4 separate regions of the Homo sapiens genome follow, and regions 1, 2 and 3 are each reported to be linked to region 4. Evidence: microRNA targets listed by miRTarBase, many of them from high-throughput screens and not tested one by one. Region 4 holds a microRNA gene; each other region holds the end of a gene's coding sequence. Distances are between the middles of the regions.
What was found. The annotated mature microRNA hsa-miR-4269 reads GCAGGCACAGACAGCCCUGGC and lies in region 4 at 3,478-3,498, opposite strand. An mRNA with a match to its seed (bases 2 to 7 or 8) in the 3' UTR can be bound and repressed. Matches are read on the target gene's strand: a 7mer-m8 pairs with bases 2 to 8, a 7mer-A1 pairs with bases 2 to 7 and ends in A, and an 8mer does both.

Region 1 (7,921 bases), not on the chromosome of region 4:
TGGGTTTTCCCTCCCCCAGAGCCTGGCTTGCTCCTTCGTTTGGGGCCTCCCCGTCCGCCTGCAGTCCCCGGATACAGCCCGCATTCAGTGAGGGCTGTGGGGCAGAGGTCTAGGCTTGAGAGGCACCTGGACCTGTCCCTGACCTTGTTGGACTGGCAGTGGGGCTGGTGTGGGGGACAGCGGATGTCCTCAGAGCCGGGGGGCAGCTCTTGCCTGGCAGGCAGGGCCTGGCCGTGCACTGGTTGGGGGCTGCCCTGCACTGCAGAAAGGACAGGTGGGCTGTGGCGTCCGCACCACACCAGGGTGCCCTGCTCATCGCTCTGGCCAGAGAACCTGGGCGCAGGCAGGGGAGGGCTGCAGGGGCGGGGCGTGAGCTAGGCGTTGGGCCGGGTGTCGGCGCTGGGTCCAGCTGTCCATCCGACTGTCTGTCCATGGGGTCCCGTGTGAGGTTCTAGGCCAGCTGCCGTTTGCCTTCCAGCTGCTGCGGACTCTGGAGCGTGAGAACCAGCGCCTGGAGGCTGTCCTGGCGTGGCGGCGCTCTGAGCTGGTCTTCTGGCGGTGGATGGTGAGGAAGCCCGCGCATCCCTCTCCCGGCATCCCTTCCCACAGCAGCCCCCAGGTGGGGCATTCGGGATCTTCCTGTTTTCCAGACAGGAAGAGGGGCTTTTAGGGAGGCCACAGACCTAGTGTAGGCTCTTTCTAGGACTTCCACTCGCCTTCTGGGGAGGCTCACTGCTGCCCCCGCCCTCAGCTCCATGGCCTTCTAGAGTGTGGCCTTTGTGCCTCCCTGGACGTCACAGTTGCTGAGATGGTGGCATCCAGCCCGCTGTGGGACCTGGGGGACTACCACTGCCCTCTTTGCCCTCTGTCCCTCTGTCCCCTTGGCTTGGTGCACGCTGTCTCACTTGGGTCTCTGTAGGACACGGTCCTGGGCACCTGTGCCCCGGAGGTGCCTGCTGCAGCCTCACAGCCCACCTTCCTGCCCTGGGTCCCCGAGCGCGGGGGTGGCGAGTTGGACCTGGTAGTGCGGGAGCTGCAGGCACTGGAGGAGGAGCTGCGGGAGGCTGCGGAGCGCAGGCGGGCGGCCTGGGAGGCCAAGGTGAGTGCCAGCCTCGCTCTGGGCACCAGCCCAGCCCCACCTTCGGGGGATGGCTGACCTGAGGGCACTTTGGACTTGCTGAATCCTACAGTTGCATTTGTCAAGCATGGCAGGGGACACACTTAGAGGCACGTACCCTGAGGGAGCGGGAGGGCACCTGGTGAGGAGCCGCAGCTGCTGCGAGACAGCCCCCGCCCCTCCTGCGGGAGGTCTGTTGTCTGATTCTTTGCATGAGGGAGGGAAGCCCGTGCTGTGTGGGCCCTGCTGCTCCCATGCGTCCGCCACACATGCATCACACGGTAGTAGTCACTCCTCCACACCTGCCTGGGACCCGTCTAACCTCCTGGTGGCCACCTGGGCCTCCACCCTAGACTCAGAGCTGCCCGCTTAACCTGCGCAGGTTCATGGCTGTGAACACGGGGCTGTGTTGGCTCCATCTATTTTCTTTTTCTGAAGAGTTTTAACTTAAATTGCAGGCATGATTTTCCCCTTAAAATTTTCAGTAAGCCTCTCTGAAGAGCATGGGCGTTTCCCGCATGCCTGCAGCGCCTGCACCTGAGTCTGGGCTCAGGGAATGCTCAGGGAGCCTGAGGCCAGTGTCCTGGGGGGACAGAGCCATTGCCATTGTGTCCCACGCAGGCTGGAGGCTGTGGACGGGGGCCAGAGTGGAGTGCCGCGCGGCGGGCCTCTCGGGAGGCTGTGGAAAAGGAGCTGGGAGCTCTACAGCAGTGCTGGGAGCGAGACGGTGGCCCGGCCCAGCCCCATGGGCCACACCGGCTGGTGAGACGAGAGGATGGGGCAGCAGGGGACCGGGACCTGCGGGCAGCTGTGGTGATCAGGACGCTGAGGAGCCAGGAGGCCTGCCTGGAGGCGGTGCTACGTCGACTACAGGGACAGTGTCGGCAGGAACTGGCCAGGCTGGTGGGAGCCCGCCCTGGTCTCATCTGGATCCCGCCACCTGGACGCTGAGGGCCTGTCGACGGGCCCTCGTGTGGGAAGCCTGCCCTGGCCCAGCCTGGCTGGGTCTTGGAGGAGCAGATTCCAAGGCCAGGTGGCCGCAGGGACGATGCAGATGCAGAGCCCACGTCACATGCTCGCTCCAGGGGTGGGGCTGGGCTGACTCTGGCCGGATCCCAGGCCTGTGGCTAGCAGCACTGGGGACAGGAATGGCTGGTCCCTTGAGGAGGTCGTGACAGGCTCAGCCTGGTGGTCTGGAGGGGACTCGGAAATAAATTGTAGCAGCTTTCCTGCCGCTGGCCCTCCCCCTGCCACCCTGTCGGGTTTCCCTGTTTGGGGGTGGGAGCGTGGAGGAGCCCCTGGGCAGTGGTGGCCAGTGTAGGGCTGGCCAGGTGCTGGAGGACATGCATACCCCAGCACTGGTGAGTGGCAGGACCACGGGGAGGTGGCACAGGCCTCCCTGGAGCGGGATTATCTCGGCCCCGCCCCCCTTCATTTGGGCTCCCGCTGTGGGCCTGGCCCTGGGCTGTGAGCACAGCTGCCCCCACCTCCGGCCAAGGCTGTGCCTGGTGGGTGCGCCGGATGGGAGCCCGGGGCTCTGCTCCTTCCCGGGAGGTGGTGCTCCGGGTGGGGAGGCACAGCATGGACAGAGGGGCTTTGTTCCAGAGGCTGCTCAGCAAGCTCAGCTCATCCCTGACAAAGAGCCATCTGTGTCCGGGGGACGTGCCTCAGCCTGGCGGAAGGAGGGTCGGCCTCATGGCACCCCCCCCGCCCCCCACCAGCAGACACAGGTGGCCCTGAGGCCTCCAGCCCTGCCTGCCTTGCCGGGCTCCCCTCTCTTCTGGGGCTGTCGGACTCTGACCTGAGGTGGGCAGACGATGGGGCTTGTGGGGCCACCTCCAGGCTCCTGCCGGCCCTGCCCCGAGGCCACGTCCATTCCCCCTGCCAGAACATGCTCTCACTGGGGCATGTGCCTGAGTGACAGCACACACCTGGGGCTCCAGCTCCAGTCTCAGCCTGTCTGGGCCTCCTTGGTCCCAGGGGTGGACACGCCTAGACCGCCTGCCTTCCCATTCCGGTGCATGGGACCCAGGAGCACCGGCAAGACCTGGCCGTGGCCAGCAAGGCCTCCCTTTCAGGAGCACCTCTCTGACCCTCTCATGCAGCTGGGCCTCCTGTGGGCCACCAGGATTTGTGCAAATGCTCCCTGGCCTGCGCCACCCTCCGGCCCCTCCGCCAGCTCCTCCTAAGGGCTCCTGCCACCTCCACCTGCTGGTTCCAGCTCTGTTCCAGGCCCTCAGACCTCAACCCTCCTCCACCTGCAGCCTCTGAAAGTCCCCCGTGCTCTCAGCAACCCTCGACTGCCGGACAGGGCTCTTCTTGGGCTGGGAGCAAGTCCACTTGAAGCCCTGCTTTTTATAAACTGCCACAGAACCAGGACTCTCACGGGCCTGGGGGACTTGATTTTTACGAGCACAAAAGCAGGCTTATTGTCATGGAGTTGTCACCTCTCGATGTGATGCGTGAATTCAGGGCAGTCCAAGTCCTGGGTGCGCGTGTGCCCCCATGATGCTGGCGGTGGAGAGGGCCTGAGAGGCCAGGGCCTGCGGGAGGGAAGCCGGCAGGGTGCCCTAGTGCTGCCCGTCATGATGGAGCAGGGATGGGACCCTGGCCTTCAGCTCTAGTTGTTATCACACATGCAGTGGCTCGAGTCGCCTGAAGTCACGCCCTCTTGTTCTGTGGGTCGGGGGTTGCCAGTCCACAGGGTTAAAGCTGGATGGGCAGGCAGGGCTGTGTGGCCCCCAGCTCAGAGCAGGCATGGAGGTCCTCACAACACTGCCTCTCTGACACTCTCCTGCCTCCCTCCCCTGCCTTCAGGAGCCCGAGTCATCCTCAAGACCCCCATCCCCTCTGTCCCCATAGACTTCCTGTCTTAAGGCCAGCTGCAGCTTTTCCCTTCTGTCTTGCGACCTGCCCCAGACCCACGGAACAGCCTGGAGGCCCACGGTGTCGGCCTGGCTGGGGCAGTAGGGCCCTGCACCCTGGACGAGCCAGCATCTGTGTAAGGACAGTGCAGTTTGCTTCCCAGGAAGACAGAGGCGAAGATGGCCTCACAGGAAACAGCAGAGGTCACCTGGCGCGTGAGACCAAGTGCGCTTACTGGAAGGTGCAATAAACTTCAACAAAACTAGAAATTTTTTTTTTTTTAAGACAGAGTCTTGCTCTTGTCACCCAGGCTGGAGTACAGTGGCGCAGTTTCGGCTCACTGCAACCTCCGCCTCCCGGGTTCAAGCGATTCTCCTGCCTCAGCCTTCTGAGTAGCTGGGATTACAGCAGTGCGCCACCATGCCCGGCCAATTTTTGTATTTTTAGTAGAGATGGGGTTTCATCGTATTGGTCAGGCTGGTCTTGAACTCCTGACCTCAGGTGATCCACCCGCCTCGGCCTCCCAAAGTGCTGGGATTACAGGCATGAACCACTGTGCCCGGCCAAAACTAATGTTTATTAAGAGGTGGTGCAGCTGGATGCAGTGGCTCATGCCTGTAATCCCAGCGCTTTGGGAGGCCTGGATGGGAGGATTGCATGAGCCTGGGAGATCAAGACCAGCCTGGGCAACATAGGGAGGCCCCACCACTACAAAAAATAAAAAAAGCAGCTGGGTGTAGTGGCATGTGCCTGTAGTCCCAGCTACATAGAAGGGAGGCCGAGACAGGAGGATCGCTTGAGCCTGGAGACCAAGGCTATGAGGCCAAGTGAGCTATGATCTTGTTACTGCACTCCAGCCTGGGCAACAGAGTGAGACCCTATATGAAAAAGAAAAAACGATTAATGAGATGGAAGTGCAGTGTCTCATACGCTTGCCTATTCTGTTCCGGCTGGCTCAGCCTTCCTGGCCTCTGCTTCCCTTTCTGCACTACTTCAGGGCTCCTTCACCTGGTCCTGGCTGACCCTGCCTTGAGGGATGAGGCTGGTTGGGACTCCGGCCAGGTCAGGATCACAACCTCTGGGGCCTGTGGTGGTCGCACCTCCCCCTGGAGCCCAGGGAATGTGTCCTACGGCCTCTGAAGTCCCGCCTTGGTTGGACAGGAGGGTTTCTCTTTTTTTTTTTTTTTTTTTTGAGACAAGATGTTGCTCTGTCACTCAGTGGCACAGTCAGCTCACTGCAGCCTCCATCTTCCAGGATCAAGTCATCCTCCCACCTCAGCCTCCTGAGTGGCTGGGACTGCAGCCTTGATCTTCCGGGATCAAGTCATCCTCCCACCTCAGCCTCCTGAGTGGCTGGGACTGCAGCCTCGATCTTCCGGGATCAACTAATCCTCCCATCTCAGCCTCCTGAGTGGCTGAGACTACAGGCGCGTGCCACCATGCCCAGCTAATTTTTGTATTTTCATTTTTAGTAGACGCAGGGTTTCACCATGCCGCCCAGGCTGGTCCCAAACTCCTGGGCTCAAGTGATCTGCCTGCCTCTACCTCCCAAAGTGCCGGGATTACAGGCGTAGGCCACCGCTCCTGGCAGGAGAGAAGTGTTTCTGAGTGGTTCCTGTTTATCTCATGGGGACCCTGACCGCTCAGTCCACACTGCCCTTGTCTACCCCATGGCCTTGGGTGTGGTTGTGGCTGGTGGCTCTGAAGTCCTGCGCCTGGGCTCAGCCTCCAGCTGTCTGTCCCTGCGTGTGAGCCTGCATTGGCTCTGCAGCCATCCCTGTCCTCAGAGTGGTCGGAGGGTGTCCTGCCCGGCCTCTCGCTGCCCTGCCTGGCTGTGCTGGGCTGGTCCCTCAGTCATTCTACCTGAAGTCACGTGGTGCCCAATATGTGCCATTCTGAGGGGCCCCATGGCCATGTCCCAGAGGGAAGAGCAAACACCATAGAGGAAAGTGCTCACAGCTGGAGGACATGGGTGCCCGCCGGGGCTCAGCCCCAAGGGGGGCACAAGCTGAGAGTAGGCAGGGCCCAGGCTTCTGCCCCCATCCGCTGGTGGGGAGGTTCTGTGGCTCAGAGGAGGTGGGTTTGGAGGACAGCTGGACTAGGTGGGTTCTGGCCCACTGGGGCACAGGATTGGCCGCTGTCTTGGTTGCGGGTGTGATGTAGGGAGCTGTGGTGGCTGGGCCCATGGTGGTTTGAGAACTGGGCAGGCTGGGGTGGGCACTGCTGCTTGGTAGCCCGGCTCTGACCTGCTCACAATCTTGGCATCTTAGTGGGTGTCAGGTGGGCAGTTGGCTGCGTGAACCTGGAATTTGGGGCTGGAGAATGGAATGTGAGAATGCAGGGTGTGGGTGGGCTCAGCCGGGGTGGGAGGCAGGGCAGGGCAGGGCAGGGCCCCAGGGTGCGGTGGGCCCGGGGCTGGTGAGGGGCCCGGGGCTGGTGAGGGGCCTGGGGCTGGTGAGGGGCCTGGGTCTGAGGCCTGAGCCTGGGCCTGCACAGTGGTAGGAAGCACAGGCAGGGCAGAGGGGATGGCTGGCAAGTGGGGGTGCGGTCAAGTTGGGGGTCTTGGTGGCCAAGTAAAGACAGTGCTTCCGGACGGAGGGGCTTATCACCTGTGCTGCTGAGGGACAGGGCCGGGGGCTGAAGATCACGCTTGGAGTGGGGGCTACACACCTGACAGAGGGGGATGAGGGGGGCCACGGAGGAGGACACCAGGGCTGTGCTCTCACCAGGTCTCCAGGGTCTTGCCATAAACTGCAGCGAAGACATAGGATGCTGGCTGCAGAGGTTTGGGCTGCAGCCTCCTAAATGTGGGGCCTGTATCTTTTTAAAATGAGCCTAGGATTTGTTGTAATCAGGGAGGGTAACACACAGACGCAGGAATGACCGTCTTGTAGGAAGAAAGTTCTTTTATCCACAGAGAGTGGGGGCTGCTCCACGCAGCTGGGTGGTCGGGGCACAGGAATGGGCAAGACGTCAGCATCAAAACTACAGAAAAAGACGCGCTTAGTGAGGTGGTACAACAGCTACCACGACCTCAGCTAATAAAAAAATGTGGGCCTTGAAGTGGGGGACCCATGGCTTGTCACGCTGGTGGGAGGCACCGGGCTTGGGGAGGCACTGGGCTGGAGGGGGCGCCGGGCTGGTGGGGGCGCCAGGCTGGAGAGGACACCCAGCTGGCGGGGGTGCCGGGCTGGTGGGGGATGTTGGGCGGGCAGAGCCCTGGGCTGGTGGGGGCGCTGGGCCGGTTGGGGTATCGGAGGGGACCGCCAGGCTGGAGGGGGGGGCGCCAGGCTGGAGGGGGCACTGGGCTGGTGGGGTGCTGGGGTGGAGGAGCTCTGGGCTGGTGGGGGCGCCTGGCTAGAGGGGACGCTGGGCTGGTGATGCCCCGGGCTGGTGGAGCCCTGGGAGGTGGGGGTGCCTGGCTGGAGGGGATGCCAGGCTGGTGGGGCCCTGGCATGAAGCTGGCATTGTGATCAGAGTGTGCTCCAGTGACTTGGAAAGCAGACACACCACTGCCAGCCCTGTAGTTTCAGGGAAGAGGGAGGAAAAGGCCTGGATGTTACTGGCGAGGGCCGTGTGCACCTGGCCCCACGTCGCCCCTAGGAGATGGGCTGGGGCGAGGCCTTGCCGGCATGAGAGCAGAACCAAAGGGCAGTAGAGAGGGAGGGAGTTCGGGGCCTTGCCTGTGGGAAAAACCTGCTGCTCCTGAGCCCAGAGTACAGGAAGTTCAAGAGCCGTTTAGCCACGAAGTCCTATTAATTTAACATCCCTCCGTTAACTGAAGGGCCAGGACCTTGCTGTGAACGTCCTCCTAGGGCGTGGCTGTCGACAGTGAGGGACAGAACTGCTAGATGAGCAGCTAGGTGGGAGGCTGCGGGGCACTGGCGAGATGCCTACTTTTTTTTTTGTTTTTTTTTGAGACAGAGTCTCGCTCTGTCG
Region 2 (7,921 bases), not on the chromosome of region 4:
CCAGCAGAGAGTGTCTTAGACCCCTTCTTCCATTGCCTCACTCAGTCCCACCCCAACCCTAAACTAATGCAAAAAACTTTCCTCTGGCAAGAGAAAGGCGAAAGGCAGGTGGCTGTTGAAACTCATTTGGAAAGTCAGTAGAACATATGATTTTTTTTTTTTTTTTTTTTTTGTAGATGGAGGAAGAAGAATATGAACAAATTCCCCAGGAGAATCCCCCAGAAGAGCTGTCCCAGGATCCTGTGCTGGAGCTGTCAGGAGGTAAAATGAATGAGGAGAGGGGAGCAAGTGGGAAACATTTGGGGTGCAGGTGGGACACAGCTCCACCACCATAGTGTGCTTGGAGAGGAAGCTGACGTCCCCCAGTCACAGAAATTTACCCGCCTCAGCCACCATCAGAGGCCTTTGGGGTAGGGCCCTTCTTATCACTAGCCAAAAATAAGAAAAAAGACCCCTGGATAGGTATGGTAGATAAAAGGAGGCGAGAAATAGCACCAATGACTAAATCACCATGCCAGTCCCAAAGGAAATGCTTTCACATGGTAGATGTTCTTCCTCAGGATGGATGTGCTGACAGTGCGTGTGACGAAAATAAGTGGCCTTGGACTGAGGCTTGGATGCCAACAGACCCTGTATGGGTGTTTGGCTGACTCCGAAGTGGAGCTGTCACAGTTGTAAGTTTGAAAGCGCCTTGTGCACAAGCAGAATGTACTTGGCTGCTGCCTCAGATCTGGGCTCTGCCTTATCGAGGGCGTCCCTTTCCCAAAAGCCATTGCACAGGGTCAGGCGCTTAACTTTCATGGGCTCAACTTCGTCATTCATCCTGGGGAGGCAGGATTTACAAATGCTGGAAACCCAGCCCTTTCCTGGCCAGAAGAAATGATTTGTGATTCATTATGTATTTTAATATGAATGACCTTTTACTTTATGAACTTAAATGGCCTGAGCCATCTGGAAAAAGCCACGTTAACCTACTACAATAGGGACATTACCAATACCTGTGTAACACCTGTTTGACCTTTTGTTATAGCAATCAAGGTTAGCTATTCTTTTAAGAATCCTCTCCAGAGCTCAAGTGATGCATTTGGCTTTAGTAAAGTCCAGTGGTGTGTGCTAGCTCCAGGCTGCTCAGATGGGGGTTCCTGTCTCCTCTGGCTCTGCACTGGGCTAGGTGGGTGGGGATGAAGATCTACTGCCCAGACTTCTGCCCATTCATTCAAATTCCTTCCAGCCACCTTGGGGAAGCTGGAGGGGGCCCAATGTCACTCAGTTAGAATTGGCACGTGGGTCAGAGCCAAGGGTGGCTGTCAGGCCACAGCAAGGCCTGTTGGTGCCCAGGAGATTCAGGAGATGGCCACGCCCATGCTGCCACATGCCAGCTTCATGCTTTGTCATCTGAGATACATCAATGTCTTCAGTGGGGACAAGACTGGGAAACCAGCTATTACTTGTCACTTCTTTATGTGCTCTGGGTCTTGGGACCCGCAAGGCCAGGAGAAGGGAATTCCCTTCCTGCCTTCTTCCCCAGTCATATCTAAAAACCTTGGTATTGGGTTTCTTGGTGTTCTATTGGCCAAGTCTCGCTCTTCTTTCTAGGCTCTGCTCTTGCACTGGGAGAGAACGTTCAGCCCCACCTTCAAGGATGTGGGCCCAGAATGGTGGCCCAGCGCTGGTTTCAGGGCAGATGTTGGTCTTTTACAATCTGCCCCTGCAGTCTGGGGGTACACCCAGAGGCTCCTGGTGATGACAAGATGGGGTACATGGGCCCTTACCCCAGTTCCCTCTGCTTTCTTTGGATATTTCTAGGTCTAAGGGAGAAAGAACAGAAGACCCCAAGGAGACTGAGGCTCATTCTCATGGGGAAAACAGGGAGTGGGAAGAGTGCAACAGGAAACAGCATCCTCGGCAGGGACGTCTTCGAGTCTAAACTCAGCACCAGACCCGTGACCAAGACCTCCCAGAGACGGAGCCGAGAGTGGGCTGGGAAGGAGCTTGAGGTGATTGACACACCCAACATTCTGTCCCCCCAGGTCTCGCCAGAGGTGGCAGACGCTATCTGCCAAGCCATCGTCTTATCCGCCCCAGGGCCCCACGCCGTGCTCCTGGTGACACAACTGGGCCGGTTCACGGATGAGGATCAGCAGGTGGTCAGGCGCCTGCAGGAGGTCTTTGGAGTGGGGGTTCTGGGTCACACCATCCTGGTGTTCACCCGGAAGGAAGACCTGGCTGGCGGCTCCCTGGAAGACTATGTGCGAGAGACCAACAACCAGGCCCTTGCCTGGCTGGATGTGACCCTTGCACGGCGCCATTGCGGCTTCAACAACAGGGCACAGGGGGAGGAGCAGGAGGCCCAACTGCGAGAGCTCATGGAGAAAGTTGAAGCCATTATGTGGGAAAACGAAGGAGATTATTACAGCAACAAGGCTTACCAATATACCCAGCAAAACTTTCGGCTGAAAGAACTACAGGAAAGGCAAGTAAGCCAGGGCCAAGGCTCTGAGGACGTGCCTGGTGAGGAGTCTTGGCTGGAAGGACTGTCCCAGATCCAGAAGGAATCTGAGGAAGCCCACAGATGCCTGCTGGGGAAGGCTGACCTTTGAGCCTGTGCTGGACTTGAGCCAAGGACACCATCAGCCTTTGCACCCCCCTGTGTCCAGCCCTCTGTTTCTCTTTCCATCCCATGGAGTGCTTCCCAGTCTCCAGGTCATGACGTCTGGTGTAGGAAGAGGGGCATGGGGCTTGAGGACAGGGTCCAGCATGCCCAGATCACATTCCAGTTCCTTCATTCCTTCTTCCAGAACATCTGGGTCCTCCCTCCTCTGTGCCCCAACAGCACGCTGTCTTCCTATTGGACCTTCTATCTCATTGCATTGCCTTTCATGAGTTACTTGTCTATACTCTGATAGAACCAAAGTTTCTTGAGGGCAGGCCTGTATCTTTTACTTCTGTGTAACTTCCACAGCTTTTGACTGCATTGGAGTCATGCAGTCACGTTTGGTGCGGCAACTCCATGCAAGCTGTTGACCAGATGACTTCTCATCTCTCCCCACACCATGATGGTTTAAGGTGCCTGTTGTGTCTGGTGGCTGGAACATGGCAGTGGTGCTGAGACATGGGGAGGGTTGGAGACTGGGTGGGGAGGGTTGGAGACTGGGCTGGGAGGAGAGCAAGCAGGAACAGGGATGGAGGCAGGAGGAGCAGCCCTTTTATTCACTCTTGAGCTGTAACAAACAAGCCCCGTTGGAACTTCCTAGTGGGAATGATGGGAGAAGTTTGGGGCAGGGTATCCAAGAAGTCAGACTGTGGTCAAGTAGGTGGTCCCTTGCCCTGGCTACAGAACATGGAAGCCCCTAGGGATGCAAGTGGACTTGGGCAGAGGAGGTCACACCACCCCACCAAGGTAGACTTAGATTAGAGATGACTTGCATCTGTTACTTCCCCTTTTTCCATGGGTTTCATGGCCCCTCATGATATTTGCCTTCTGCTCCTAGAAGGCACAGACTACTTTCAACCTGCCTCGCCCTTCACTGCCACCCCTCCCTTCTCCCTTGATAATGGGAGCATGTGGATGGGGTGTCTGCGTGTGCAAACGGGTTCCCTAGCAAAGTATTTGTGGGGGTCCAATGCAAGGAGGCAGGGAAGAAAGGGGGCCTGCAAAGGAAGCAGTAGAGTGACTTAAACATCTTGCGAGGCAGCCTGCCTGGTTTATGGGAGAACTCTGAAGCCCATGATGTTTTCCTGGAAGGCTGTTCCTACAGACGGGGTTTATAAGTACTGATACTGGACAGGATGAGAAGGGAGTAGGATGTCATCCTGTCTCAGGCCTCGGATAGGAAGCTGCCTGCCAGCAAGAGGAGACTGATGTGCCCCGGGTGCACCCCACCTCCTTTGAGGTCCAAGATGCTCCTGGGGAGTTGACCGACATTTGGGAAGATAATAGGAGGCATTGGGGAAACTGCTCCCCAATATATTCCTCTTTTCCTTTCTTCAAGCTGCGTAGCAGGGGGCCTTTAGCTAGTTTCTCCCGAGAGGGGCGGGAAGTACAGCTGGTGGAGACAGTGCTGGGAGATGATCAGAAATCTCAGGGCACAGCCTCAGGTCTACCTGGACACTCATCCACTGTTGGAGATGCTCAACAGCTAGACACAGATGCTCACAGCCGACCTGTGGCCTCTTGCTCTGAAGCCATCCCCCATCTTCCCTAGACACAGCAGACATCTGAGAAAGCTTCAGCATTTCTCTTGCTAACAGATTCAGAAAAGTGTCTCAAAGCAGAGCACAGAGTTATTTGGTGTTTGCTGAAGACAGCCTTTGTGCCACAATCACTTATTAAATAAGCGATCAATTTCCCATTGAACTGAACATGCAACATTTATCATACATTCAGTTCTCATTCACACTCCTTAAGATTTGGTCAGAATTTTTATTTCTGTTCATGTCTTCTACTTTTCTACTCCTGTATGAATAAAATATTGATTTGATTACAGTGGCTTTGACTATAATGTGGGAGCCAATTTTTGCCTCAGTCTTCATTTTTATATTTACCTTGTTATTCTCAGGCATTTTTTTCTTCTATGTGAGAGTTAAAATCATTCTGTAATTTCCCCCCAAAATCATATTGGTATTCTAGTTGGCAATGTCTTACATTTATGTTAAGTTTGAGGGAATTGGTAGTTCAAGTATAAGTTAATTAAGGCCATTTTATTTCTAAGTGAACAGACTTGAAACTCCAGAGCTACTGAAGTAAAAGTTAGAATCATTTGCATTTTCATTCAGATAGGAGATAATTTTGTAAATTTTGATGCTATTATTTTAACTCTATTAGCTTAAGTAATGTCATAATAGAAAACACAAGCATTTGACCAAATGAGATCCATTCAGCGACTAACTGGCAAGGCACTCAAAACATGTCATTCATTAAATGTTGTTTTTATTTACCTCAAATATGGTGTTTTCTCTCTTTTATTGCTAAGCACCAGGAAAGATATCTCCCATGACATTTCAGGAATAGGGATAGATGTCTCTGCATAGCTCTCACTCTTTCAGCTTCAGAGGAGAATGGGGAAAGCATGTGTGGGTATGTTCTAGAAACTCTAGTCTATCAACCAGTAAGAAATTAGTGGTGGGGGGTGATGGTGATGAGAGAGGGTTGTCTTGGCCAAAGCTGTGATAATAGCAGCTTTTAGAGTTTGTTAAAAATATCTCTACACTAAAGTGAAGGATGAAAAACAGGGATTTGGAGAATTTGAGCTAAGTCAGTACAGGGTTTTTCCTCCTTGGTGGATCAAAGCAGGTGTGGAGTGTTACAGAAAGATTCCAGCCTCTAACCTTTTTGTGATAACATTTATAAAGTGCATAGAAAATTCAAAATTATAATACTAAGAAAATAACTTTGAAGGCATGGGAAATGGCTAAATGCAGGTAGACACTCATGCAGAGAACCTGACCCCTAAGATGAGGGGACCACACTAGTCTCATCTTGGTGTGACTTTTCACATTAAGGCAGTATTCAGTCGTGTGGATGCAGACATGGCACACACCAGATGTTCACAGTGGCCTGGAGGGTGGGAGGGTGGAGCCTGGGACAACCAGAGCAGGTAAAAATTTACATGGGAGCTCCCCAAAATAAAAGAGCTGCAGAGCGGGGAGATGGAGTGGTGGGGATTTGCGGGCTGGGTACCAAAAGCTCTGCATTTCTCCCTTCAAATCCTTGGCTGACCCTGAACTGTACAAGCACAGGGCACTCTCCAGAGGATCCCAGGAAAACTTCTGTGGAGGTTGAAAGAGCTGATCAGAGATGTCAGCAGTTGCCCACAGTAGCAAAGAGAATTGCAAGTTCCAGTCCATCAAGTTAGAAGACCTTGGTAAACTTGTATATTTCCACTGAAATACCAAAAGGATCATATTTTAGGAGTAAGTACTGCATCTCAGCACTGAGAGACTTGCCCTAGAAGGAAGAGCAAATTAAAGCAAACCCTTGCTAATGATGTCTAAAATCAAGCCTTCCCAAGGCAAAAGCGATCCACCAGTAATTTAAGTGCCCGTTGGAACAAACTCAATATTCTGCAGAAGATATAATATCCAAAGCCTCTACAACATGTTACCTACAATATCCTTTACCTTACTAAAAATTCTTCTTTTCGAACATATAAATATAGAGATATAAAATGTCCTTCTGTGCATGTTTATCTGTATCTCACACATTTTTATCTTTTTTTTTTTTGAGACAGGATCTTGCTCTGTTGCCCAGGCTGGTGTGCAGTGGCATGATCATGGCTCACTGAAGCCTCAACCTCCTAGGCTCAAGCAATTCCCCCACCTGAGTTTCCTGTGTACCTGGGACCACAGGCATGCATCACCACACCCAGCTTAATTTTTTAGTTTTTGTAGAGATGGGGTCTCACTTTGTTGTCCAGGCTGGTCTCAAACTCCTGAGCTCAAGCAATCCTCCTGCTTCAGCCTACCAAAGTGGTGAAATTACAGGCATGAGCCACCACGCCTGGCCCACATTTTAAAATATTCTATTTTCACTATCGTTCTTTTAAAATACTTTCTATATTTCTTGTGCTGTCTTTTTTCACTCATGGATTATGTAGAAGTGTGTATTAAAATTCCACGTTTGAATATTTTCTAGAAACGACAGTATCCAATAAGGTAGGTATTATCCACATGTGGCTACTGAGCACTTAATATATAGGGGTACACCTGAGAAACTAAATTTTAAATTTTATTCAGTTGTCATTACTTTTAAATTTTGAAACAGTGTAAAATATTTTACCATGAAACACAACTTTACTATTTTGGTGGAAATACCTTTACCTCTAACTGTTGCCTCACTTAAGATATTACAGATCATCCCTGACTTATGAGGGTTTGACTTAGGATTTCTTGACTTGATGATGATATGAAAGTTCTGTGCATGCAGTAGAAAGCCATGTGACACCCTCTCACGAAGCTCAGCTGTGGCAGTGAGCTGCAACTCCCAGTCAGCACGCGATTACTCTGGTAAACAACTGCTACCCTACAGTGTACTGTTGCCAAGCTATAATGACCAGCAGGTTAGGTTTATTGAGTGCATTTTAGACTTTCAATATTTCACCTTACAATGGGTTTATCAGGACGTAACTCTGTTGTAAGTTGAGAAGCATCTGAGCCAGGCATGGTGGCTCACGCTTGTAATTCCAGCACTTTGGGAGGCTAACACTGGAGGATAATTGGCCCAGGATTTCAAGACCAGCCTGGGCAACATGGTGGAACCCCATCTCTTAAAAAAAAAAAAAAAGAAGTAAAAGAAAAAATCTGAAAATAGAGATGTATCTGTATTGGACTGCAAATGTGTTGCCACATGGATTGTTTTCAGCACCATGTATAAATATATCCCTGATCTAGTCAGTGTCAATGGATTGATTCAATTTGAATAATTTTTTATCAGGACACAATATCTTTATTTGAATATTTTATGTAGATAGCATGAGTTATAGTTACACCTATCTATATTGTTAATGATAATTAAAATTAAATGCTAATTATTATTTTATTTATAATACAATTAAATTACTTTTTAGCTTAAAATAAGTATAGCCAAGTTTTAATTTTGAAGTGAAGGTATAATGCTGATGCAGAATTGAATGGAGATGATTAAGCTAGTGCTACAATTAGAACAGGAAAGAGAACTATAGATTAGCAGAAGACATGTTGCAAATTTCATGATTAATAGTAATTATAATACGCCACAGTACAGCAAAAGAAAACACACACCTTTTTTGTTGTGTTAAAAAAATGGAAAGATAATGGAGTGTACTATTATGAAGAGACATTTTCAGCAGATACATAGGGTGCTTGATAAAAAGCTTTCTCTCAACAATCAAAAACAGAATTGACAAAGTTAGTCACCTGGAGCCAGAATTAAACATCCAACAAC
Region 3 (7,509 bases), 120 Mb from region 4:
AAGTCTAAAATAGGGAAAATAGTAGTAGCTACCTCACATAGTTGTCTTATATAAGGACAAAATGAGATAATTAAACAAAATGTTTAGCCCAGCCCATGGAACACATAGAGCTCGCTGAATGTTGGCTTAAAATGTAACACAAATCCAACACAAATGCACACATACCAGAGAACTCTGTCAAACAGGAGAGTGGTCCTGGGGCACCTTCTCTCCCTCCCAAGCCAATTGGTGTTCATGTGTATATGGAAGTATTACAACTATATATTTAACAAATTGAACTAAACATACCCCCAAACTTCAGTATTTTGTCTATCCATTCCTGACTCTCATCCTACAAGATAGGATTTCACTTCCGACCCCCTTGTGGTTTAGCAGGGCCACGTGTCTACCTTTAAACAATGAATTGAAGCCGGGTGTAGTGGCTCACACCTGTAATCCCAACACACTGGGGGGCCAAAGTGGGACGATCACTTGAGCCCAGGAGTTTGAGACCAGCCTGGGCAACATAGTGAAACCCTGTCTCTATAAAAAATTTTAAATATTAGCCAGGCATGGTAGCCTGCACCTGTAGTCCCAGCTATTGATACTAGGCAGGCTGAAGAGGGAGGATCGCTTGAGCCCAGGAGGTGAAGGTTGCAGTGAGCCCAGATTGCACTAATGCACTCCAGCCCTGGTGACAGAGCCAGACTATCTCCAAAAAAAAAAAAAAAAAAAAAAACAATAATTGTCAGAGTGACCAGATCATGTATTTGTGCAAGACACTCCACAGCTCCCTCCCTCTCCCACTAAAACTAGCAATGGTCCAGTTAGTGGCTGCTCTGTCACCCTACATAAAGACAACGTGGAACAGATCCCCAGCTAAGCTGCAATGGAGAGGGAATGTGAGTGAGAAACCTTGTTCTTTGCCTATGAGCTCTGGTGGTGTTCCCACAGGATAACCTAGCGTAACCTGACAGATTAGTCATGGAGCTCCCAGGCTGTAGATTATTTTAAATCCCTCACCCCAAAACTTAAGACCCTTTATTCCCTGGCTTCTGAAACAAGCCACTCTTCCCATTCTGTTAGCCTCTCTGACCATTTCTCCACTTCCTCATGGACTCCATTTCCTCTGCCTACCTTGTTAAGCCATGCTGTTAACCAAGAATTTGTCCCCAGCTTGTGACTCTTCTCATTCTACACGTTCTCCAGGGAGATCTTACCCACTTTTGATTTATCCACCTGCCGCTCCAGTGTCATAAATCCAACACATCCAAAAGCAAATGCATCAGCTGCCCAGCCCCCTCCAGACATGCGATCTTCCTACACTCCTCACCTCAGTGAATGGCACCAAACCTGAGCCAGAAACCTGGCAGCGATGCTAGATTCCTCCCCGTCCCGTCCCATCTCGTCCTACTACCCGCACCCAGCCCACTCAACCAACCCACCAGTCCTGGCAATTTTACCGCCTTTAAATGTTTGTTATTGCTGTTGTTGTTGTCCAGGGGAAGGGACATTGTTTATTTCTGCTTGTTTGATGCTTATTACAGTAGATACTTAAAAAAAAAAAAAAATTATTTCAGGCTCAGGGAAAGTCTTATTTTGGTGTCAGCCCTGACTGTGATGCTCTATCTGAAAAGGAGGACAAACAGTTTAATCCAGACCAAGAAACAAGCAAACTTTAATTTCCGAGTACACAATTATGAAACTATGCCAGTAGCGACCTGCATGTTTGTCTCATCTCTTTAGCCACTTAAGTTCTCAAAACACTGCCAAAGCTTTCCTTCTCTATTAAACTCCCTTAAGCATTACTCATACTATTATTCAAGTTTAAGATGTGGCAAATCTCCCCAAGTGTATATGGCTGGTTCTCTTCTTATAAATGAATCCATAAGACAGTGTCCCCTAATTCATCTCTATTTTCTCTAACCTGCTTGATTTTCTAAAATTGGAAAAAAGTAATTCCGGTATACTAAAACCAGAGCCCAGGTTTCTCAACATCTTCAGTTAAATGACTTTTAATTCCCCAATCAAGGTATAACACACAAATGTTATCTGCGCTTTACAGTATAGAACTCTGAGTGGCTGGTGTCTTTTGGTTAGTGTAACCATTACACAGCAGTATCTGCTTGTCACCCCGGTCTTCTTTAGCCTCAAAAAATATTCAGAATTTGTTATGCACATGGGAGATTTCTTACAGCAGCACACTCACTTACAAAAAGACCAAAAAAATTTTATTGCTTTACAACAAGCCAGCAACAAACACAACTGAATAGTTATAAACATGACACTTCTAAATCCTCAAATGGAATTCCAAGACCAGAGTGTGCTTCTCCACTTTAATAGCATTTGTTAAAACTGAAATCCACAACTTCTGGCAAGTACTTCAATATTCTCAAGCAGAATCAATACTTAAAGAGGTTAAAAGAAAAAACTATTATCAAACGTATTGTCTGTGGGATGATCTAATTTAAAAGCCTTTCATGCTTGATCCTGGCAGTGCTATTACTGCACATTTTAAGTGACCATCATGGGCACTTTTAAGAACCTAACTTCACAAAAAGAGCTGTCACAAGAAAATTGTTCTAAAATCCCAATGCACAGTAACTCATGCCTCATTTCAACTGCTTTCCTCATGATGAAAAAATGTAGTCAGCCTTTAACTTGGCCTGATAAAAGCTGTGAAAGGTATGCCAAATGGCCCCTTGTACAAACAGGAAGCCCAAATTGTTGATCAGGCAAGAAAAGGTGACACTTTTAGATACTTCATATTATTCTGGAAAGCACTTTCCTTTCAGTGGGTGCAAAATAACTACGGATTAAGTCACCATTTTAATCATCTCAATTCAATAGCAAGAGTTTCCTGGCACATACTCTTAGTACTACCTGAAAATTGGGGCGTGTGGGGAAGACCACCAACAGTATTTACATGACTTGCCCCAAACTGTACATTTAAAACATGACTGTTGGGATAGTCACCAACAACCTGAAATTTCTTACTCTAAAACACATTACCAAATCCCACTGATTTATTTTGTGTGTGCTTTCGTGGTTTTTGTTTTTATATAGAGATGGAGTCTCACTTTGTTGCCCAGGCTGGTCTCGAACTCCTGAGCTCAAGCAGTCCCCCTGCCTCGGCCTCCCAGTGTGCTGGGATTACAGGTGTGAGCCACCACGCCCGGCCTGACTTATTTATAATTCACTATTTTATCTTTCTTCCAGACAAAGCAAAGCATTTTTCTCTAACAACATAATAGTCAGGATTTTGCTTATTAACTTACGTGGGTGGCTTTATACTCCCAGAACAAATGATCTAGCTGACTACTAGGAAAAAGGTTTCATAGTTTAGGAATATATCACATCACGTGTTAGTTCCAAATGTACATGAAGACAATTTTTAATTGCTGCAATAGCAGAATATTAAGGCAACATCAGAAAGCAGAGGTGTTTTAAAACACTAAGCCCTACTCCCTGCCTGGTGGAAAACAAAATGATGTTACTAAATCCCTTAATACAAAAACTTTCCAAAATAATCTGTTGAGCTTGACTTCGCAGTTTAATCTTTTACAGTTTGATGGCAGTGAGAGAGAACCTGCAGCTATAATTCCCTTGGCAAAAGAATTCAACATCTGATTTACTCACAATGCTTAAAATAAGGAAGGGAAAATATAAAATAAGTTTTCCTTGCTTGGCAACCATCTTTTTAATTATCTATTTTTATACTGTATCCAGGCTATGCCTGGGTGTGGATGGCTAACTCGCATATAGAAAATATCAAGCATCACATCTGGAAGAATCACAAACGAGACAATGAACTTCTCAATCAGTACATCAACAGTCAAGGTAAGCAAGAAAAGGACTTTACCAAGAAACTAACATTTACACTTTCTGACGGAACTGAAATACACTGAATTACAGGCATATTCACTGAAACAACAAAAAAAATTCTGTCCATGTAAAGGCTATATTTTTTACCCCCAAAAAAGTGTTTCAATTCTGATACTCACACCACAACTGGTTAAGAAAATAAAGCGCAGTGTTTAGCAACTGAGCATCCTAACTACCGTAAGAGGCACTCTGTGCTCACCCCTTCCTGGCAACCGCTGAGGTCAGCAAGGCCAGGAGCAAGGAGAGCCTCCTATTTTTCAACACAAGCTGCTGCCGTCTCCTTATTAAAGCCCCGGATGGAGAGATCATAGACCACTTCCTCTACTTTCTTCACGTCATATTTCAATCCGTCGTAGCGCTTCCTCAGGGAGTCATTTTTCAGGTTGAGAAGGCGAAAACCGGAATCCAGCTCATTGATGAAGGTGGAGATGTGGAGGGGTCGGGAGTAGTCTCCAGCAGTCACGCTGTTGACAGACAGCCTCGACTGTACCAGGAAAGAGAAAACAGGGGCTTGTTACAACATGGCTCCTTCTCAGCGCATCTTCCTCTGAATCACAACCAGAAGAACCGCAAGCCTAGACAGCCACGCTGATCTTCTATCTCAGGGTACACACAAGTACAGACAAGACAGGAGCTTCTCTGAAAAGAATCCCACTGAAAATGAGACCAGTTCTGCCAAGTAAAATTTAACATTACTAACATCTAAAATTTCTCTAATTTCTTAAACTGGCTATTGCATAATAAAGTGTTACATTACACAAGCATCTTTACAGCTCATCTGCTATCATATCGAAGAAAGAAACGACAAAATAATCACAGCAGCTCCACTACCTCTTCCAACCTTGGCCAAATGATCACATTTCTAGAGCCCACCTACTAAGCTGCAACTCCAGTCACCTAGAATCAAGTAAGGCAGACTTGGGATAAGAATCTAAAATTATGTTAGTGTAACCCTGTCTTGAAGGAGAACTAACATTGATTTCAAGACCCAACCCAAGACTCCCCTTCTCGGTGTCAGTATACAACCCCCTACTGCTCCATTTGACTGGCTTTAAAAAATATATTAAAATAATAAAAAAGATTCCCCTTTCTGTAAAATCCTCTCCACTTTTCCAGGCTTACCCCTTTAGTGCACTGTCAACATACGGGTTTTTTGTTTGTTTGTTTGTTTTTAATATAGAGAAGGGGTCTTGCTTTGTTGCTTAGGCTGGTGTGGAACTCCTGGCCTCAAGGGATCCTCCCACCTTGGTCTCCAAAACTGCCAGCATTACAAGCGTAAGCGACTGTGCCCGGCCCCAACATGTATGGTCCTAAAGACACCTTACACTTAACTAATACTAACAAGATGCTTCCTGTTTACTGGTCAGGTGTCTCCAACAAGCCAGACAAGTGGTACAGCCTACAAGTGGACCCCATCATCCATTCTCACCATCTTCCTCAGGTTTTCAATGCACACATACCCACTCCAATAGACTCCATTTCTGCCTCCCTGCAGGCAAGGCACCAGAATGTTAACAGAAGTTGTGTGTACAACTTCAAAGAAATGTCCTTAAAGCGGGAGGGCATACCATTTTCCCTATTTCCTCCTACTGCTGGCTAGAGTGAAGATGTGACTAGAGCAACAGTTCTGGAACATAAGAAAGAAGCTGAAGCTAGAAGAACCTAGGGCCAAAGATCAAGGAATCATCAGACCAGCCCTGGACTGCTTTCCTCTGGAGCAAGGACAAGCAAACTTTTTCTTAACGAGCCAGATAGTAAATATTTTCACCTCTGCAGACTGGCACAGTCTCTATCACAACTACTCAATTTTGCTACTGACAGCTTTTTTTTTCTTTAGACTTTTACAGGGCAATTTCCCTAGATAGTGGTTAAAGGAATAAAGGATAAGAATAACTTAGTTATATAGACAAATGAGTGTCCAAAACAATTACATGGATTAACAGTTACCAGGAATAAATGTTTTGCCACTACCCTAAAAGGAAGAGGTCTTATCATCGGTTAAAAATTCTTAACTCAGTAAGTATGCACTCATCATTTGATCTGGCTTTTCTCTGATGCCTAGTAAATTGTAACACATACAGTGCCAGTCAGTGACTACCTGGTGACCGAGAGATGGCTTAGAAAAGAATTAAGACGTTCTGAATTTTGGTACCCATTTTAAAAACAGACAGTGGGCCAGGCACAGTGGCTCACGCCTATAATCCCAGCACTCTGGGAGGCCAAGGTGGGCGGATCACGAGGTCAGGAGATCGAGACCATCCTGGCTAACACGGTGAAACCCCGTCTCTACTAAAAATACAAAAAAAAATTAGCCGGGTGTGGTGGCGGGCGCCTGTAGTCCCAGCTACTCAGGAGGCTGAGGCAGGAGAATGGCATGAACTCGGGAGGCGGAGCTTGCAGTGAGCCGAGATTGCGCCACTGCACTCCAGCCTAGGCGACAGAGCGGGACTCTGTCTCAAAAAAAAAAAAAAAAAAAAAAACTGACAGTGAAGCAGAAAGATCAAAAAAGCAACCAGCAAGTTACTGAGCTTACCAGTTCACTGGCAAGAATTAGAACTCCTGAGAGATAATCTTCTACATCCAGATGAAATCCTTTCTCCCGATCTGGCTCAACTAAAAAACACATGAAAATAAAGTCATGCTGTGAATGCAAGTTAAGCCTCAGAATATAAAAATATACACATAATTTCTCCCAAAGTAAGTGAAGAAAGGATGAATCTTTTAAAAACTGGCTTTTTAATATATTCACAACCTTGGCAACTAGACCTCACTATGGATTTTTTGAGTTCTTAAGCAAAATTCAATTCAGTCTTCCCTCAAAAATACTATCAAAAACAGTATCTAGTTGTGTCACAGAATATACTTCTTGTTAGAAAGCACATGATAAAGCATTTCAGAAAGGAGTTACGATATTTGCAACTTTCAAATGGCTGACAAAGACACACACAAAATGAGAAGATTAAGCAGATGTAGCAAAATGTTAACAAGTGGTAAATCTAAGTGGCATGTAAACAGGTATTCATTGTACTATTCTTTCAATTTTTCTGTAGGCTTGAAATTTTTAAAAATTCAATTTTAAAAACTAAAGCAAGTGCAAATGTGTTTGCCATTGTTATTTTTAGCTTTTACATTTCCAGGTAGAGTCGGCCCTCTGCGCTAACCAACTATGGATAGAAAATATTTGGGAAAAGGCCAGGCGTGGTGGCTCATGCCTGTAATCCCAGCACTTTGGGAGGCCAAGGCGGGCAAATCACGAGGTCAGGAGTTCAAGACCAGCCTGGCCAACATGGTGAAACCCTGTTTCTACTAAAAAAATACAAAAAATTGGCTGAGTGCGGTCACTCACGCCTGTAATCCCAGCACTTTGGGAGGCTGAGGCAGGCGGATCACCTGAGGTCAGGAGTTCAAGACTAGCCCGACCAACATGGAGAAACCTCATCTCTACTAAAAATACAAAATTAGCCGGGTGTGGTGGTGCATGCCTGTAATTCCAGCTACTCAGGAGGCTGAGGTAGGAGAAATGCTTGAACCCAGGAGGTGGAGGTTGTGGTGAGCTGAGATTGCGTCATTGCACTACAGCCTGGGCAACAAGAGCAAAACTCCATTTCGGAAAAAAAAAAAAAATACAAAAAATTAGCTGGGCAT
Region 4 (7,921 bases):
CGTTTAGAATGTTTGAACTCAGCCTCTGGGGGAGCTGGGAGCACTGTGGCACCTCCAGGGGCCTGCAGCGTGCTTCCGAGGGCTTGGGTGTAGAGGAAGGGGAACCCGTCTTTCGCCTGTGACAGCCTTGCCCTTGGGTCTGGGAGCAATGAGGACTCGGAACGTGAGCCTCCTGCTACAGGTACAGGCCCTGGGGGAGTGAGGGCGCTGGCGGACAGCAGTCTTGGCACTTCACGTTAGCAGATTCGGAGTTTCTGCAGCGGCTGAACCCCTGCACTGGGCTGGAAGGGGGGGACACCCGGAGGCCTGTTAACCACACTCTGCCTGGACTACACCATGAACATAGATCTTTGTGCTTTTGAAATACAAAAAACGAGCTCACCTGGATACGAAGTGTGGTTCCGGAAGCAGTATCTGGCTGTGGATGGAGGTTATGTATTCCACCAACGATATCTTCATTATTGTTATTTTCCTTTGGTAGCTGATCTTTCAGAGAGATCTGCAGATTCCTCACTTTGCTAAGAAGACTCTCTGAAAACAGGAAGCTAAGGAACTCCTCACTCCCAAGTTGATTACAGCCTCATGGAAGTGTGGAATTCTTATTAGGAAAGCCTGTTGCTGAGTACCAAGCAGGTTATCCTCTTGTCCCGTGTCACCAGGGGGCCAGCTTGATGAGGAAGAAAGTGACCCTGGCTCCCTCGTGTCCCCAAGGCAGTGGACTCCCCCCCGGGTCTCTAGCTCTCTTGTCCCTAAGCTGATAGCTCATCGTCAAGGAGGGCTTCCTGCACGCTGACCACCCCCATCTCACAGATGAGGAAGCTGGGGCCCAGGGAGGGTGAGTGATGGGGTGTAGGAAGGGTGAGTGACAAGGCCCAGAGAGGGCTTGTGATGGGCCCGGCTCTCACCGTTGGGGGTGGGATGGGCCATCCTTGGCTCCTCGCAGCTCGTTGCTGTGTGGCCACTCATTGCTGTGTGGCCGCTCACTTTGGGGGGGATGGGGACACTTTGCTGGCTGTTGCTGCCGGGCCTTGTGTTCCGTTTTCAGGTGGAGATCAGGAATTCTGAGATAGTGGCAAAACGTGATGTGGCTCGGGGTGCGTGGAGACGTGTGTGACAGTCCCCAAATCCACAGTGGCTGTGGGGTGGCGTTTCAGGCTGGGAAACCCTCTGGAAAGAAAGCACGAAACACTCCGACATCCTCATTCCATTTTGCTTGTTCTAAAAGAGAACTTGAAGAAAATCATCCCAGCAGCATTTGCTTAGACCAAGTGCGGTCATGAGAACGTCATCTGAGTGAGGAGGGCTTCTCTTGCATGCGTTTTCTTGAGCAGGAGTTGTCGTTTGGCTATTTGGAAAACCAAGTTTAGGGTCCCTGGTGAGTCTGCGAGGTCCAGGAAGCAGACACTCACTTTATCTAGGTGAGAGGACGGAGCTGCAGAGATGGGCCTTAGTGACCACTGGGCCCTCGTATCTCTGGCAGGTCCCTGATTAGTGGTGGGAGGGGGGTTCCCTTTTGTAGCCACTTGGTCTTTTGACAGCTTGGGGTACCCATCCTTCAAGCCCCTCTCTCCTGGGGCCCAGTGGCCGCCTCTGGGCATCACGGAGAGCCGCTCTTGTGTTGGGGCCTCCGGCTCCTCGGCTCTCTGCTTCTAAACAGAACACCCTCTTGTTTCTGAAAGTAGCCCATGGTCCCCTGAGGGTCCTGAGCACAGCCCCCACTCATCTGAGGATGACCATTGGGGCACGGAGCCTGCCCCAGGCCCTGGGCTTTGTGCCCAGGGCTCTCTTCTCCCTCCCTGTCAGGGTTTCCAGACCCCTCGTGGGCACCCAGGATGGACGGCAGGCACAGAGCTGGAGGGTGTGGCCTGAGATGGGCCATCCGGACGACTCGGGCCTCTGGGCTCACCAGAGTGCTGAATGAAGGCCGGAGGGCGAGAGTGGGAAGGATGGCATCACCCACCCTGCCGGTGGCCCCTATGGTCCTGCGGCTCCTGCTGCTTCTGGGTTACCCTGGGCCCAGGGTGCAGGCGCCCTTGGGGAGGTGCACACGGGAGGCTCAGGCCCTCCTTGGACATTCCTGAACGCCCCCATGCATCCCTGCAGCTCCTTCCAGAAGGTTCTCTCGATCCTGTCTGGCTCCTCGGGGGTGTGTGGGAAACCAGGCCAGGGTCTCCCGGTTGTTGGCTGGGGTGGGGTCCTGCCTTCGCCCCTTAGCATTCACCCCCTACCCCTTTTCACCATGTAAAACCCTGTGGGCCCTGGGCCCTGGATGCTCTGCGCCCGAGGACCTGGGTTCTGCCATCACCTGGGCAGTGTGGGGGGCATATAGGGGGAACATGGGGTGCCTGATGTAGTGCCTGTGTTTGACCTTGTTTAGGTGAAGAGCACCCTTTCCAGCTTATGTTTTGTATCATGACCGGGAAAGGTACGAAACAAGTGTGTCGGGGCCCAGATGATTTGATGGCTCTACGGGCCGAGTATGGGACACAGGATAGCTTGGCCCTGGGTCAGGTATTAGTCAGTCCTTGCTGGCACCTGGGCAGGGACACATCCGTGGATGGGGCCTGGCCAGGTGGCCTCTGAGGTCCTCGTGTCCACTGGAAGGCTGTGTCCTCTGTTGTAGTCACTGACTTGCTGGACCTGGGTGGGAGCTCACCCACCTGTGGATGGGCCAGGGAGCTCCTGGAATCACTAGAAAGATGAACTTTTTTTGCCTTCTAAATGTATGAAAAGATGGGAAATGATAGGAAAATAAGTGGAAGTCAGATCTATTCAGGAAAATGACTTCCCAGGGAAGAGCTGGGGTGCCTCCAAACCCAGAATCCTCGGTTTCTAGAAGCAAGGCTGACCGAGGTGGGCAGCATTCTTTGGGACCTTGAGTGATGAAGTAGTTACTTAAGCAGAGTGTTTCTCATGTGAAGCCAGGCAGTCTAGGACACTAGGAATCATTTCAGCGTGGGGGAGACGCAGACACTGTGCTTGCCCAGGGTGCTGCATTCATCTGAAATGCCGGTGGCTACCAGCTCTTTGTCACGGTTCCTCCGTGGTCTCCTTGAATGCTGTCAGATTCAGGGCCCGTGTGGGCAGCGGCAGCCTCGTTCCCAGTCGTGTTTAGGGAATGGGGTCAGAGAAGTACTTGCTAAAGCTTCCTGTGTGCACGTGTAATTGTGTGTGCATGTGTGTTAAATAAATGTATTTCAACTCGAAATACACGTTTCGTGGCCATCAGTCTAGGGATGGCTAGAATTTAGTCACTAAATGAAACTAAGCCGCACCGTCACCAATAATGTGAACATGATTAAAAACCACACTCAGTTCTTATTCATTTACCTACAAGTCCAGAAACTTTTAGAACTTATTTCACCATTAAAATAAATAGTTTTTTAAAAAATATACAACAATAAGGAAAAATTTGAAAGCCTCTTGCCCCTCCATCCCAGGCCTGACAGAGTGGCTTCCACAAAGAAAGAGGCAGAAGCCAGGGCTGTCTGTGCCTGCAGGGCGCTGTTGGGCTCACAGATGACCCAGACTCCCCCGTAATGGAGCCGCGGACCCACAGCGAGCCACTTGCACCAGGCTTAGCCAAGCTGACAGGCCAGCGGAGTAAGGAATGTTCCCTACCATTGTCCAGAAAATGTAACGAGGGTGAAGGTGTGCCAAGCAGACTCCCCGTGTCAGCCCTGAGGCGACTGCCATCGCTTTCAGAAACCTGACTACCAACCTGGATGAAAACCGACTGCTTGGTCATGGCCATGCAGTTAGAAAACACAGCAGCAATCCTCAGATGAGTGTGGCCGTATTTGTGTTACTCAAGCTGCTTTGTCATCTGCATTTGAAGAAACGTGGTGAGCCTCCTGTGTGTGCCCATGTGGCAGTGGGCACCTCTGCCCCCTGCAAAGGCTGTCTAAGAACACAGAGCCTGCAGTACAGGCCCTGCCTCCTGACATGCCCCAGGCCGGCTGGAAGAAAGCGCGGGACTGTCCTATTGACGTGGGGAGGGGACGGCTGGACTCTGTGATGCTAACTGTGTTCTCTGCTGGGCCATGTGGCTCCCCACAGAGACCCTGGGTGCCCAGTCATTCGCGTTCTCCTATGTGTGTGTATATATATTATATATACATGTATTTACTAACTTTAGAAAGCCCCCAAGGGGGCCTTGTTTCTGCTTGGACAGTCAGCGTCCATAGCGTGTCATTCCTAAGCTCCATTAAGGAGATTCAGAAGCAAGCAGTTACCCCTGGAGTCTGCACGCTGGGCACAAGGGTCACACCTTCGTTGAGAGCTCCTGACCCCAGGAGCCGAGGGCAGGACACGGTAGTGTTTACAGGACCTGGCAAAGGGGCACTGCCTTGTGTGTGAGGTTTTTTCACCAGTCAGTCCCTTTTAAAAACAGCATATCTTTTGAAGAACAAGAAGTTTACGCAGGCATAAGCAACTCACTTTGCACGTGGAGCTTTCAGGACGTTTCATGTCTGTTACGTTATAGCCTCTATCCTCATGGGGGCTCTGAGTTCAGCAGGGCCTGAGCTGTTAATCTGCTTTTTCAAATTATTAATAATGAAAGTAACACCATGCCACCACCTGGTATCATTTCATGCTTTCTATGTGCCTGGTGTTTACACGGCTTATCTCATTTAATCTTCCCAGCATGTAATAAAAATATTGCAACAGGTACTGCTCCTGTGTGGACTCCTTCCCCCGAGCTCACACTGCTTGAGGCCTTCCCAGCTCTGGGCTTTGTGTCCTGTGTGGACTTCTTCCCCGAGCTCACACTGCTTGAGGCATTCTAGCTCTGGGCTTTGTGAATATCCTGCTTTTATCCTCATTTATAGGTAAGAAAGCTGACTCAGAGAGGTTAAGCAGCTGGTCTGAGGTCAACTGCTTACGGGTCGGGGAGCTGGGCCTGCACACAGGGGTCTGATGCAGAGCTGGTCCTATCTGCTTTATAAGCTGTGGCTCACAGGGCACTCCAGGGGCTCGAGAGGACCTGGCGGGCTGAGATGAAGACTGGTGAGGCCTGGGAGGCAGGTGCTTGACTGAGGTGGGAAGTGGGACCTTGGTGCCAAGCATTCCCAGGGCCACGGGGCAGGCCTGTAGGGTCTGGTGGGTATCTGGGGTCCCGGAGAAGCCCTTGGCACGGGGCTTCATGAGAGCATAGGCGAGTGCCGCGCCCTGCAGTTGAGCACGGGGGATGCAGCTGTCGCAGTCGCTTTTGAAGAGTGAGGGGTGAGGCCTGCAGTTGCTGCCCGACGTTGTTTACAAGTGAGCAAGTTTTACAAAAAACATGGACAGCATCAGGGCTGACTTGAATTTTTTACTTGAGGCAGCAGCTCAACCTGTTGGTTTCCTCAATTGTGAATTAAAAAAAAAAAAGAAAGAAAGAAAACAGAGAAAGCTGACAACGTAACATTGATGAGAGGATTCTTAAGGGAGAACAAGCCACAGGCTGTCCCGAGAAAGGAGCGGGGAGATCGAGGAAGCACGCTGCCGTGTCTTGTTCGTGGGGTGCTTGTGACGCTCTCGCAGGATGCCCTGTGGGCCACACCACGAGTGCTCGGTGGCGACTGCAGAAGGGTGAGGGACGTTTCCCTTCACACCAGACGGCGGGTCTTGATGGCAGAGGAACCAGGCATCAGAGGAGGACAAGTCAATCCGGGAGCGTAGATAAAAAGGAAGCGAAACTTATTTCACATTGTCAAGCTGTCGGGGATTCCAGGGACCTTGTCCTCCAGGCCTGTCCCTGTGCCCTCCTGTCCCCAGGCCTGAGCAGCCGGGTGTGGGATGGGAACAGGCCAGGGCCAGGTGCCTCACGCCCTGAGGCTGGAGTCAGGCTCTGTTGCCACTTTGAATCCAGGGGCCCACCCTGAACCCTGAGCTGGGCTTCTGTTCAGTACGCGGAGGTGATGACCTCTCCCACCCGGGGGGGGTTTGAGGACTCCCGAGGTGGCAGGGGTGACGCCCAGCCCAGCATGCAGAGTGCCCAGGCAGTGCCCACACCTTTCCTCTCCCTGCCAAGGTGCTCCGGGCCTGAGCCTGTGTGGCCCCCTGCTTGGGGCTGTCACCACAATGCCATTCCCCGCACGCCCAGCAAGTCCCTCCTATGGGTGAGAGCCTAACTTGAGAGACTCTTTTGGGGAGGAGTAAGATGACCTGCCCTTCTCAAGAGTGAGCAGTTCTTAGATGACTGCCTTGAGCAGCGATGGTTCTTCCTGCAGGGGTGCGCCCACGAAACGCTCTGCGTGAAGCACATTGGTGCCATGCTCAGGCCCAGGGAGAGTGGAGGGTGCTGTGCTCTTGGACTGGGTCCTGGCTCGAGGGTTGAGGGGCTGGGCCATGTCCACAAAAAGTCACTGGATGGCTGGGCTGCTCCCACTGTGTCGCTGGAAGAGGGGCAGCGCCCGCTGCAGTGTTTGGAGTGCTTGGTCATGGCCCCACGTGGATTCTCCTTCCTGGGGGAAGCTGTTCCGTCCCCAGGTTTTCAGCTAACTTATCTGAGTTTTGATGAAGAGAGCAAGGGGTTTTGCTAATCTGGATTCCTGTGGAAGGGCCTCCTCTCTCTGCTCGTGTTTTATAGCTTGGCAACTCTAGTGCTAGTTCTGCAATATTCGAATTTGAGTAGCCAGAAGAATTTGCTGCCAGGGTGGCCTTGCCCTTGACTTTGAAATGAACTCACCCGAGACTTCAGCTTGATGCCTCCTTTGGCTAATGCTGGGTTCTGGGCTTTGGCCGCCGCCTGCCTGTCCATCACAAGGGGCCATGTTCTCCAATCAGGACAGAGTTCTAAGCATTTCACAGTAAAGCCTGCAGGAGTTAGGTTTTCTGTTCTTGACAGACTGAGAATGATACTGAGAATGTTTTCTGATTGATTTGGTGAGCTGTCTGTTTATAGCATCATTAGAGATTATTTTCCATGGCTAGGAATTATTCTTGACCTCACAGTAAAGGACTCTGAATCCCCCACCCCCTGCCTGTTTTTTTTGTTGTTGTTGTGTTTTTTTGTTTGTTTGTTTTAAAGAAAAGACTTGTACCATCAGTCTTAGGCGTAATCTCCTTGGCAGTAGTGAGGAGCAAGGCATCTGATGGAGAAACAAAGCATGGTAAGGTTTTTACCATTCAGGAATCACACCGCAGTAGCATTGTAGTATTTGATCACAATTTACTCTTACTTTTTTTCATAAAGAAAGAAATAGGCCTACAGTGGCTCTCACTTGTAATCCCAGCACTTTGGGAGGCTGAGGCAGGAGGATTGCTTGAGGCCAGAAGTTTGAGACCAATCTGGACAACATAGGAACACCTCCTCTCTACAGAAAAGATTAAAAACATTAGCTGGGCATGGTGGTATGCGTCTGTAGTCCCAGCTGTTCAGGAAGCTGAGGTGGGAGGATCCTTCGAGCTAGGAGGTCGAGGCTGCAGTGAGCCATGTCATACCGCTGCACTCCAGCCTGGGTGACAGAGGGGAGACCCTGTTTCAAGAGAGAAAAATAAAAAAAAAAAAAAAGAAAGAAAGCACCAGCAGAATTTAGAAATGTGGGCCAGTGTGGGAGCCTCGCCTGGCATCACTGGCCTCGCCTGGCATCACTGGCTGTGGGCTGCTGCTCTCGCCCTGGAGCTGTTACTTTGAGAGCAGATCGAGGACTCAGCAGGCAGGAGGAATGTTCACGGCAGGGTCAGTTCCCACGCTGCATACGCCCCACCATCGCCCCTCGTCGTGGCTGGGATGGGAGACCGACTTTAGAACCAGAGGCTGGGAAGAGGGAGATACCCCCTTCCAGAAGGGGCCTTCTGCCGCTGAGTAAGGGGGTGGTGCCCGGCTGGCTCCATGAGGGGCATGAGGGGTGCTGGCTATGCTTGGCCTGAGGGGTTGCTGCAGGAAGGCCTTGCTCCCCGCCGGGGCTGAGGGACCCGGCTGAGCAGCAGCAGC

Region 1: the mRNA of TEDC1 is a reported target of hsa-miR-4269. The part of its 3' UTR that is shown has no 7-base or 8-base seed match.
Region 2: the mRNA of GIMAP6 is a reported target of hsa-miR-4269. Seed matches in the 3' UTR shown: 7mer-m8 at 3,067-3,073.
Region 3: miRTarBase lists TSN as a target of hsa-miR-4269. Seed matches in the 3' UTR shown: 7mer-A1 at 2,711-2,717.

What each region holds. Positions count from the first base shown.
Region 1 is chr14:105,496,879-105,504,799 of GRCh38, forward strand. TEDC1 (tubulin epsilon and delta complex 1) reads left to right here. Exons shown (of 9, transcript NM_001367178.1): 7 at 479-565; 8 at 920-1,099; 9 at 1,739-2,370. The coding sequence ends at 2,068. Among named protein-coding and RNA genes, the nearest start is that of TEDC1, 9.6 kb to the left of the region's middle. RefSeq lists a silencer at 1,934-2,228.
Region 2 is chr7:150,622,398-150,630,318 of GRCh38, reverse strand. GIMAP6 (GTPase, IMAP family member 6) reads left to right here. Exons shown (of 3, transcript NM_024711.6): 2 at 177-261; 3 at 1,807-4,944. The coding sequence starts at 177. The coding sequence ends at 2,600. Among named protein-coding and RNA genes, the nearest start is that of GIMAP6, 6.0 kb to the left of the region's middle. RefSeq lists silencers at 572-772, 792-992.
Region 3 is chr2:121,761,973-121,769,481 of GRCh38, reverse strand. TSN (translin) reads right to left here. Exons shown (of 6, transcript NM_004622.3): 5 at 6,398-6,477; 6 at 1,629-4,348. The coding sequence ends at 4,115. Among named protein-coding and RNA genes, the nearest start is that of TSN, 10 kb to the right of the region's middle.
Region 4 is chr2:239,301,049-239,308,969 of GRCh38, reverse strand. MIR4269 (microRNA 4269) reads right to left here and starts at 3,508; the gene lies at 3,425-3,508. The region is part of intron 2 of HDAC4 (histone deacetylase 4); the gene reads left to right. RefSeq lists enhancers at 759-1,405, 5,742-5,831.